Linked DNA regions of Homo sapiens. The protein of the gene in region 1 interacts with the protein of each later gene in a pairwise test. Each region holds a gene or a part of one and is shown in the gene's direction. Other genes may lie near its edges.

Evidence for each region.
Region 2: the proteins of SLC39A9 (region 1) and EVI2B interact in binary tests that used the Homo sapiens proteins (3 or more experiments, as listed by UniProt).
Region 3: the proteins of SLC39A9 (region 1) and MANBAL interact in binary tests that used the Homo sapiens proteins (3 or more experiments, as listed by UniProt).

What each region holds. Positions count from the first base shown.
Region 1 is NC_000014.9:69,436,539-69,440,293, forward strand, and holds part of SLC39A9 (zinc transporter ZIP9), read left to right. Parts: intron 1-3,755. UniProt on the Homo sapiens protein: Transports zinc ions across cell and organelle membranes into the cytoplasm and regulates intracellular zinc homeostasis. Participates in the zinc ions efflux out of the secretory compartments.
Region 2 is NC_000017.11:31,312,477-31,316,231, reverse strand, and holds the start of EVI2B (protein EVI2B precursor), read left to right. Parts: upstream 1-2,177; 5' UTR 2,178-2,253; intron 2,254-3,755. UniProt on the Homo sapiens protein: Required for granulocyte differentiation and functionality of hematopoietic progenitor cells through the control of cell cycle progression and survival of hematopoietic progenitor cells.
Region 3 is NC_000020.11:37,287,969-37,291,723, forward strand, and holds the start of MANBAL (protein MANBAL), read left to right. Parts: upstream 1-1,686; 5' UTR 1,687-1,718; intron 1,719-2,300; exon of another isoform or gene 2,301-2,358; intron 2,359-3,755.

The sequences.
Region 1 (3,755 bases):
AAAAGTTCTGTTTTGTTTTTGTTTTTTGTTTTTTGGATGATGGTTCTCATTTTAGCTGAGTTTTCAAAGCCTTTACAATGCTGCTTTGGCTATGTCCTGTGTATACTGAGTTCAGGGGTGAGCCTGGGACTTGTGCCGTTTATACATAGGATTAAAGAACCCCTCTCTCAGCTCTTTCCTCTCCAGTGTTCCTTCCACATTGTTTTGCAAACAGACCCCATTTTCCTGGTCCTCTGTCAAGAAAGACAAGGTTTCTCTATAGAGCTGTGGCTGCATGCAACACTACATGTGTTGCCACCACATAGTTCCATGTGACTTGGGCTTCTATCAAAAGAAAGTAACAGCAGAAAAGGCAGAACAGCATAACCAGGTTTCCCCCATACACTTCAGACCACTGGGATCCCTTGCTAGCTCCGCCTCCCGGGTTCATGCCATTCTCCTGCCTCAGCCTCCCGAGTAGCTGGGACTACAGGTGCCTGCCACCACACCCGGCTAATTTTTTGTATTTTTAGTAGAGACGGGGTTTCACCATGTTAGCCAGGATGGTCTTGATCTTCTGACCTCATGATCCACCTGCCTCGGCCTCCCAAAGTGCTGGGATTACAAGCGTGAGCCACCGCGCCCGGCCTGGGATCCCTTTTTCTATTTGCTCTGGCCAGAAAGATGGGGTTTTAACTGCCTTTGTTGCCACCATGCAGTTCTGCAACTGGGGCTGCCTTAAAGGCAGGACCAGGAAAGAAAAAAGAGGAGGTAGAGAAAAAAAGGGGAGACTTTCCTGTACTTCACTACCTCTTAGCAACCTCTTTTCCTGGTCCTTTGGCCGGAAAGACAGGGTTTTTCTAGAAGTTTTTGCTGCCTTGCCTTCACTTGCTGTTGTTTACTTTTTGTAGTCCTGAAGTAGTTGTTTTTTGGTGTGTTTTGTCCAGTTTTTGTTGTAATCAGTGGGTGATTGACGTCAAAATGCTCTTACTGTAACATGGCCAGCATCAGATGTCTCCAACATTCCTTTTAAAATGTAAAATGTTAATACCTCTGTTAAAGAAGTTTTTTTGTTTGTTTTTTTTTTTTTGAGACGGAGTCTCACTCTGTCGCCCAGGCTGGAGTGCAGTGGCACCATCTCAGCTCATTGCACCCTCCACCTCCCGGGTTCAAGCAGTTCTCTGCCTCAGCCTCCCAAGTAACTGGGATTATAGGTGCCTGCCATCATGCCCAGCTAATTTTTGTATTTTTAATAGAGATGGGTTTCACCATCTTGGCCAGGCTGGTCTTGAACTCCTGACCTCGTGATCCACCTGCCTCAACCTCCCAAAGTGCTGGGAAGAGTAACTCAAAAAAATCTGTGAAGTAACTTAACCATGATATTACCTTTCAGCTAAGCTGTCTCCAGATTTTTTACATCTTTCTTCATACTGATGAGTTTAGACATATCATTGTAATTTTGTTTTTGCTGCTTTACTCTCTCTTTTCTTACCCTCTTCCCTTACCCTTTTTTTTTTTTTTGAGACAGAGTTTTGCTCTTGTCACCCAGGCTGGAGTGCAGTGACACCATCTCGGCTCACTGCAACCACCGCCTCCTGGGTTGAAGTGATTCTCCTGCCTCAGCCTCCCTAGTAGTTGGGATTACAGGCACCTGCCACTAGGCATAGCTAATTTTTGTATTTTAGCAGAGACGGGGTTTCACCATGTTGGCCAGGCTGGTCTTGAACAACTGACCTTAGGTGATCCACCTGCCTTGGCCGCCCAAAGTGCTGGGATTACAGGCATGAGCCACCGCGCCTGACCCCCCTCTTTCTTTATTGTAGACCAAAACAACTTTTCTTCGTACTTCAAGAAAGACGTTTGTATACATGTTACTACAGCCTATGGTTTCGTTCTTCTGTGGACCTTATAATTATAATACATTGTTTTCAGAACTCAGTATATCATGTTAACTAAGTGCTCTGATGCTTTAATAAGCATTATTAAATACTAATTAATGTAAAAAGGAACCTCTTACTCTTCTGTAATTATAGCTCTAAAATCACTGGAATTAGATGATTATCAGCTTTCACGTAAAAAAAAACTGTCTATAGAAACAAGTTTTAAGAACTTCAAAGATTGTTGGGTAATGCAGCACTTTACTGTGCAGCCAAAATTTGAAAACATCTCAAAATTCTTTGGACTGTTAGAATTGGTATGTTTAGGAAGGTAGACTATTGGGTCAAAGATGAAAATATAAATGTGATGTATTGTCAAAACTGCTATTGTCAGCCATGGCTCAATGTAGATTATCCCACTCATTTTTATCAGTTCTGTAAGAATGCCATGTATCAGATTCTTTATAGAGGTATGATTAACTGTGGCTTTTTCTGTCACTTTACTCTACATTAAATAAAATATAGGGGGCCCTAGCCAGAACAGTCAGGCAGACAAAAAAGATAGAAGGCATTCACATTGGAAAGGAAGAAGTAAAGTTGTCTCTGTTTTCAGGTGAGATGATCTTATGCATAGAAATACCTAAGGATTCCACACACAAAAAAATTAGAACTAATAAACAAATGCAGTTAAGTTGCAGGATACAAAATCAGCATACAAATATCAGTTGCATTTTTATACACTAACAATGAACTATTTGAAAAAGAAACTATGAAAACAATTTCATTCATAATAGCATCAGAGGGGGAGGGAAAGCATTAGGAGATATACCTAATGTAAATGAGGAGTTAATGGGTGCAGCACACCAACATGGCACATGTATACATATGTAACAAACCTACACGTTGCGCACATGTACCCTAGAACTTAAAGTATAATTTTTAAAAAAATAATAATAGCATCAGAAAATAAAATAAAATAAAATACTTGGGCATAAATTTAACCAAGGAGGTAAAAGATCTATATGCTGAAAACTATAAAACATTGATTTAAAAAATTGGAGAAAATATAAGTAAGGTATTCTGTGTTCATGAATTGGAAGAATTAATATTGTTAAAATATCCGTAGTACCCAAAGTGATCTACAGATTTAATGCAACCCCTATCATAATTCCAGTGGCATTTGCTATGGTTTGGATATTTGTCCCCTCCACATCTAGTGTTGAAACTTGATCCCAGTGTTGGAGGCGGGGCCTGGTGGGAGGTGTTTGGGTCATGAGGGTGGATCCGTCATGCACATATTGGTGCTATCCCCTTGCTGATGAGTGAGTTCTCCCTCTATAATTTAACAAGAGAACTGGTTGTTTAAAAGAGCATGGCACCCCTCCCCTCTCTCGTCTTGTGAAATACTGACTCCTCTTCCCCTTCTGCAATGATTGGAAGCTTCCTGAGATCCTCAGATTCGTGCTTCTTGGACAGCCTGCAGAACTGTAAGCCAAATAAACCTTAATAGAACGATCCTAAAATTCATATGTAACCACAAAAGGCCCTGAAGCCGGGGTAATTTATAAAGGTCAATTAAAGAGGTTTAGTTGACTCACAGTTCAGCATGGCTGGGGAGGCCTCAGGAAACTTACAATCGTGGCGGAAAGCAAAGGGGAAGCAAGGCACCTTCTTCACAAGGCCGCGGGAAGGAGAAGTGCTAAATGAAGAGGGGAAGGGCCCCTTAAAAACCATCAGATCTTGCAAGAACTCACCATGTAGTACACCTGTAAACCCAGCTACTCGGGAGGCTGAAGCATGAGAACCACTTGAACCCTGGAGGCACAGGGTTGCAGTGAGCCGATATCATGCCACTGCACTCCAACCTGGGTACAGAGTGAGACTCTGTCTCAAAAACAT
Region 2 (3,755 bases), on another chromosome or scaffold:
CTGGGTATTACAGTTCACCAGCTTAATTCAGGGATTTAAAAATAGTGAATCAGGTTAGGCACAGTGGCTTACACCTATAATCCTGGGAGGATCACCTGAGGCCAGGAGTTTGAGGCCAGCCTGCACAACAAAGTAAGAGCCTCATCTTTACAATAAATAAATAAGCCAGCCAGCGAGCATAGTAGCATGTGCCTGTAGTCCTAGCTACTCGAGAGGCTGAGGCAGGAGGATTGCTTGAGGTCAGGAGTTCAAGACCAGCCTGCGCAACACAGCAATACCCTGTCCGTAAAAACAACAATACTTCCAAAAACCAGTGAATCAAAAGCTTTATAGCATTTGATTATATTATGCTTTATAGTAGGAGCCCATAAAAAAAAACTATTCTTTTTGCACCAAGCTATAAGTACCCTGAAGTTAAGAACAAGGTCATAATAACCTGTGTTTCCCGCAGTGACCAGGAAAAAGCAGTGCATGGGTTAACACATTCCGTACCTACTATAATATGCATCATCCAAGGCACTTTACATTTATTTAATTCCACAATAAGCTTATAAATTAGGAATTATGATCTCCATTTTTCAAGAGAGGAAAGGTGACTTACTCAAAGAAATTTTTATTCAGATGGACTCACTCCTTTCAATACACTTTGTTTAGTTAACTTAAAAATTTTTTGTATTTTAAATTTTTGTGGGTACATAGTAGGTGTATATATTTAAAGGGTAATGAGATGTTTTGATACAGTCACGCAACGTGAAATAATCACATCATGGAGAATGGGGTATCCATCCCTTCAAGCACTTATCCTTTGTGTTACAAAGGATCCAATTACACTTTTAGTTATTTTAAAATGTATAATTATGGTATTAATGACAGTCACTCTGTTGTGCTATCAAATAGGTCTTATTCATTCTTTCTATTGTTTTTTGTACCTATTAACTGGTAACACCATCTCCCCAACCCCTCATTACCCTTTAGTAACAAGTTAACTTTAGTTAACTTCTTATTTAAAAAATGATCCCCAATTTATTTTATTTTCCACTGAGAAGTAACTACTTTGTGGGTAATCAAATAAATAGTTGAGAACTTGAACTCAAAAGTCACTAGTAAAATATTTGGTCAAAATAATTTAATTACAAATATACAAATGGCAAACAGGCATACGAAAGGGTACTCAGCACCACTGATGAGAGAAATGCAAATCAAAACTACAATGATACCTCATCTCACCCCAGTTAAAATGGCTTATACTCAAAAGACAGGCAATAACAAGTGCTGGGAAGGGTGTGGAGAAAATGGAACTCTCGTACGCTGTTAGTGGGAATGTAAATCAGTAAAACCACTATGGAGAACAGTTTGGTGGTTCCTCAAAAAACTAAAAATAGAGCTATCATATGATCCAGCAATCCCACTGCTAGGTATATACCCAACAGAAAGGAAAACTGTACAAAGAGACATCTGCACTCCCACTTTTGTTGTAACACTATTCACAACAGCCAAGATTTGGAAGCAACCTAAGTGTCTATAAACAGATGAATGGATAAAGAAAATATGGTACATATACACAATGGAGTATTATTCAGCCATAAAAAAGAATGAGATCCTGTCATTTGCAAAATAATGTAATTATACTTTTACCCTGGACTTTTTATATTATGAGGAAATAACATTACATTTATTGGTTACCTGCAGTTGGTGAGGCATTTATACATGTTATATTATGCTATCTTATTTAATCCTCACAATAACCCAATAAAATATTCCTTTAGAGGAGGAAACGGTGACTCAGAAGTGCAGAGTCTTGCCTAAGGTCATACAAGTAAACAGAACACATCACTCACTTCTTATGAGAAGAAATCTCACTGTAAGTGATAACCCAACTGGCAGCTTTTCTTCTTAGAACATGTAATTTTCTCTTCGGGACTCCATCCTAAATATTTAATTTACATAATCATATTACTAGAGTATCTCAAATATTTATTTACATAATTAAAAGCACTCAAATCATAGGGCTCCAAAATGTATTTCAAAATAAGTTCTGTTAAAGTAATATATTTCTTAGTCACTTTGTGGTTTATTGCACTTCCGGAACCAGCTATTGATAAACTTCCTCTTTTTCTACAGAAACTATTTCAGTTTGCTAGAGGAACATTTTAAATCTGAATTGAACCACCCATTTTCCTTTCTTAGCCAAATCACCAAAATGTCCAGTTAGAACAAGAATTTAGCATTCTGCAAAAGAAGTTAACAGCTGAGGTAAGAAAATTTTCACACAATTTGGTTTGATCTTGCTTTATATAAAATTTATTTTAAAAACTGTCATTAGTGTTTTAAACTTAAACTCTGATAGTCTAAAGATGTCTATAACAGGTTTTTGTGGTTTTGTTGCATAGAATTAAAAAATACTCAGTTCAGCTTGCCTTAGAAAAATATTTTCACCTAGGTTTGTATAAGACCTTTTAAGTTTATTTAATCTCACACACACACACACACACACACACACACACACACATATTTTTTTTTTTTTTTGAGATAGAGTCTTGCTCTGTCTCCCAGGCTGGAGTGCAGTGGCACGATCTCAGCTCACTGCAACCTCCACCTCCTGGGTTCAAGCAATTCTCCTGCTTCAGCCTCTCAAGTAGCTCGGATTACAGGCGCCCACCACCACGCCTGGCTAATTTTTTTGTATTTTTAGTAGAGATGGGGTTTCACTATGTTGCCCAGGCTGGTCTCCTACTCCTGACCTTGGGTGATCCGCTTACCTCCGCCTCCCAAAGTGCTGGGATTACAGGAGTGAGCCACCGCTCCCAGCCACAATCATATTTGTTAACCTTAGTTTTAGAATTAAAAAGAAACTATAGCCATGGCAGATAAAGCTAAGGGTTAGAAATAGAACTAGATTCCACAGGCTATGACTGAATTTATAACCTCCAAAATATTAATTGTTAAAAGTTCTAATGTACTTTTTATAGAATTTTCCTGTACATAATATAATGCATAAATTAAAATTTTTGTATCCCCTTTAGTTTGCATAGTAAGAATGGTCACTTTCACTTAATTTAGAAAGAAAAAGAAATCAGATGTGGTATTTGACTATTATTATTATACATGCTTTATTTTTTACATATAGATTTTATATTTAATAATGATGACATGAAAACATTATGGCTCATTTTAAAAGCTTACTAAGCCAAAAATGTTAGTCAATAATCAAACATGCATGCGTATATTAATATCATCTACGTGTTTATGTCACATTATCTGAGACTTTAGAACATAGTATAAGATAGAAGAAACCTATAGAATAAACAATAGAAAATTGTTAATATGCATAAAAGATGCTTGCTGTGGGTAAAATGGGCAAATAAAAACTGCAAAGAGTATTTTACATAGACTTGTAATTTCAGGGAATAATATGTTCATAGTGGGTGATATCCCATTTCAACACTTAATAAATATTCATGACTTTCTCTTAGAAGGATTTCTTCTAAGTAATTACTGTGGAAGTCAGAAAATAAAGATATTTATCTCTTTTTCAGATTAGGCTTGTCTATATATTTTTCTACTTCTAATATTTAGTTTATTTCATTATGCATAAAGTCATAAAATTATATTAAATTTTTTTCACTGTCATATTTCATAAAATTAAAAAATTTCCCATCGATCCTTATGGTGTGTTTTTGTCATAGAATCCCATACTTTTTTTTTTTTTTTTTGAGATGGAGTCTCCCTCTGTCACCCAGGCTGGTGTGCAGCGG
Region 3 (3,755 bases), on another chromosome or scaffold:
CTCTGTTCCTTGATCCTCTATGTATGTTATCTAGGCTGCATAACCAATTATCCTAAAACTTAGGAGCTTAAAACAATAACATTTAGTATTTCACAATTTCTGTGAGGCAGGCATTCAAGTGGCATTGCAAGGTATTTCTGGCTCAAGGTTGCTCTTGAGTTTACACTGAAGATTTTGGCCAGGCCACAGTCATTTGAAAGCTTGACTAGGACTGCTGGAGCCACTTGGCTCATACACATGGCTGGCAAGTTGGAGCTGGTTGTTGGCAGGCAGCTCAGTTACTCCCCATGCGAGCCTCTCCATAGGACTGCTTGAGTGTCTTCACAACATGGATTCCCCATGAGCAATCAAGACAGAGGAAAGAGGAAGTTGCAATGTCTTTTATGACTTTATCTTGGAACTCGTGCTCCAAGATTTCCGCAATATCCTATGGGTTATACAGGTCAGTCTTATTCTTGGTGGGAGGTGACTACAGAGGGGTATGGATATCAGGAGCCAAGAATCGTCAGGGTTTATGGTGGAGGCTGGTTATCACACTCTCATCTAGGTTTCTTTTTCTCCTACTACTTGCCCCCCACCCCTTCTTAATCATGGAACACTGTTCTTTGCCTTCAAAAAACTTATCCTGTTATATGATTACACATTCATTTAATTAGTCTGTCTCCCTCCAACGGACTGTAAGCACCACAAGGGCAGAGACTGTATGTGTCTGCTTTAGCACTGTGTCCTCAGTTACAAGGACAAAGCATAGAGTACGCGCTCAGTGAATGCTTTTTGAATGAATTATAATGATTTGCTTCTGTCTGAATTACAAGAGGTGTTTCTGTTTGTCTCCTCTCTGCATTGTAGGCTCCTAGCTCAGGACCTGGCATAAAATTAAGGAAATGAACGTGAGAAACACTTTTGAAATAGTGACAACACATCCAGATGAACATTTTGCAGGACAGCTACACACCCGTTTTAGCTCACCAGCTACCAGTTGTGACTGTGCTCTGCTCTGGGAGATGGCTTAGCTTTGCATAGGACAAAATTCTAATCTAGTTTCGCGCAGTTCTTACGAATTTGTTACAATGAGACGGGCCAAGCTATACAGCCCATTGCGATGAATAAGTAACTTTTTTTTTTTTTTTTTTTTTTTTTTGAGGAAGAGTCTCATTCTGTCGCCCAGGCTGGAGTGCAGTGGCGCGATCTCGGCTCACTGCAACTTCTGCCTCCCGGGATTCAAGAGATTCTCTTGCCTCAGCCTCCCAAGCAGCTGGGATTACAGGCGCCCGCCACCACGCCCGGCTAATTTTTGTATTTTTGGTAGAGACGGGGTTTCACCATGTTGACCAGGCTGGTCTCGAACTCCTGACCTCAAGTGATCCGTCCGCCTCGGCCTCCCAAAGTGCTGGGATTACAGGCGTGAGCCACCGTGCCCAGCCCCGAGAAGTAATTTCTTTTGTTTTCTTTTTAATTAAACAAAAATGTTGCTGAAACGAGCTGAGTGATATAGGAGCTTAAAGAATTGACAAGCTCTAGATTTCATTTCCCCAAACCTCTTTGTCCAGCTCGAACCCACAGAACAGGGACAAAAGTCGACAAAACCCAGCGGTGCCTCACCCAGAAACCTGGCAACGCGGGCGGAACAGAGCCGGTTGGTTGCTCAGTGCGCGTCACTTCCGGGACTCAGGGTCGCAGGGAACTACTTCCGGGGGAGCGGCGCGGCGGCGCGGGAGGTGAGTGCCGCAGCTTTGCGGTGGGGTGGGAACCGAGAGAGAGCCGTCCTCGGTGCGGTGGCCTGGCTTTCCCGGCCGGCCTGTCTCCAGCGGCGCCGCTTGGTGGGCCCGGCTGTCGCTCCGCTCAGGGCCTGAATACGTTCCCTCGGCGGTTGTTCGAAAGTTACTTCCGGAGGGGAATTTGAGCCCCCCGGGAGGCGGAGGGCCTCGCCTGGGGCAGCCCTGCGCTTTCGTGCGGAGGCTGGGCCAGAACCCAGGGCTCCTCATGGCCTGGTCCGGGCCTTTCCTCCCACGGGTGGAGCAGTAGGAGAACCCTGAGCTCCAGAGTGAATCTGGCCAGGGTTCGAATCCGTATGGCTCTCTTACCGTGGGCAAGTCACGGTTCCTCTCTGGCCCTCAGTTTCGTCTTCTAAAATGGACATACACGCTTGTACTGCGGGGTAAACCGAGGTGGTGAATGTAAAGCCCTTAGTAGGTGCACAGTCCATGTTTGTTGTACGAATTCTAAGAGAAGCGAGAAATGAATATGAGAAACATTTTTAAAATGGTGACAACACATTTAGATTAATAATTATATTTTGCAGGGCATCTGCACACCAGTTTCAGCCCACCGGCTACCAGTGTGACTTTGCCCAGAGAGGTGGCTTAGCTTTGCATTCTAATCTAGTTTTGCGTGGTTCTTAGGAATTTGTTTTAATGGGACGGGCCAGGCTGTACAACCCATTGCCATAAAGCGGTAACTTCTTTTTCTTTCCTTTTTTTTTTTTTAAAGCCATTCTATTTATTTATTTAGAGACGGAGTCTCTCTCTCGTCCACGCTGAAGGGCAGTGGCGGGATCTTGGCTCACTGCAACCTCCGCTTCTTGGGTTCAAGCGATTCTCCTGCCTCAGCTTTCCGAATAGCTGGGATTACAGACGTGTGCCACCACGCCCGGCTAATTTTTGTATCTTTAGTAAAGACAGGGTTTCACCATGTTGGCCAGGCTGGTCTCAAACTCCCGACCTCAGGTGATCCACCCGCCTCGGCCTCCCAGAGTGTTGGGATTATAGGCGGGAGCCACCACACCCGGCTTTTTTTTCTTTTTAATTAAAAAAAAGTTGAAATAGAGATGGAGTCTCACTATGTTTTCCTGCCTGGTCTTGAACTCCTGGAGGCAAGATATCCTTCCTCCTGGACCTCCCAAAGTGTTTGGGATTACTGGCAAGAGCCACTGTGCCTGGCCTAAAACAGTAACTTCTGACACTGGTTTCTATTCCCCAGTCTGTTTTCAGCTGAATTTTCACAATAGAATTTAAAGTTACTTCATTAGAAGCCAAGAATGGCCTACCAGCACAGTACACAACATTGGGAGATGAAGGCCTGTGGCAGTCGTGAAATCTGAGTTTTTCAGTCTTAAGAGAAGATTTAGTATTTGCTAAGTCTTGAGAGCTATACTTGTCTCAGTGGTTTTTTATTTATTTGTTTTGAAATGTTGACCCATTCTTTTTTTCCCCAATAACCTTTTTGTTTTAGAATAATTTTAGATTTACAAAGTTATCGCAAAGATACTTCAGTGAGTGCCCATATAGCCCACGTTTCCCCTATTACTAATATCTGAAATGTCACAATTACTGAACCAATATTGATACATTATTATTAACTCTAATCTGTACTTTATTCACATTTCCTTAGTTTTTCCCTAATGTCCTTTTTCTGTCCTGGTATTATCCAGGGCACCCTATTACATTTAGTCATCATATCTCTTTAGGCTCATCATCTCTGTGATCGTTTCTCAGACTTCCCTTGTTTTAGATGAACTTGAGGGTTTTGAAGATAGTACTGACTGGTCAGATATTTTGCAGAAGGACCTTTAATTAGGATTTGCCTGTTTTTGACATGAGTAAGATCAGGGTAATGGGTTTTTGGGGAGGAGGACCACTGATAGGGTTCGGCTGTGTCCCCACCCAAATCTCATCTTGAATTGTAGCTCCCATAATCCCCCCATGTTGTGGGAGGGTCCTGGTGGGAGACAATTGAATCATGGGGGTGGGTCTTTC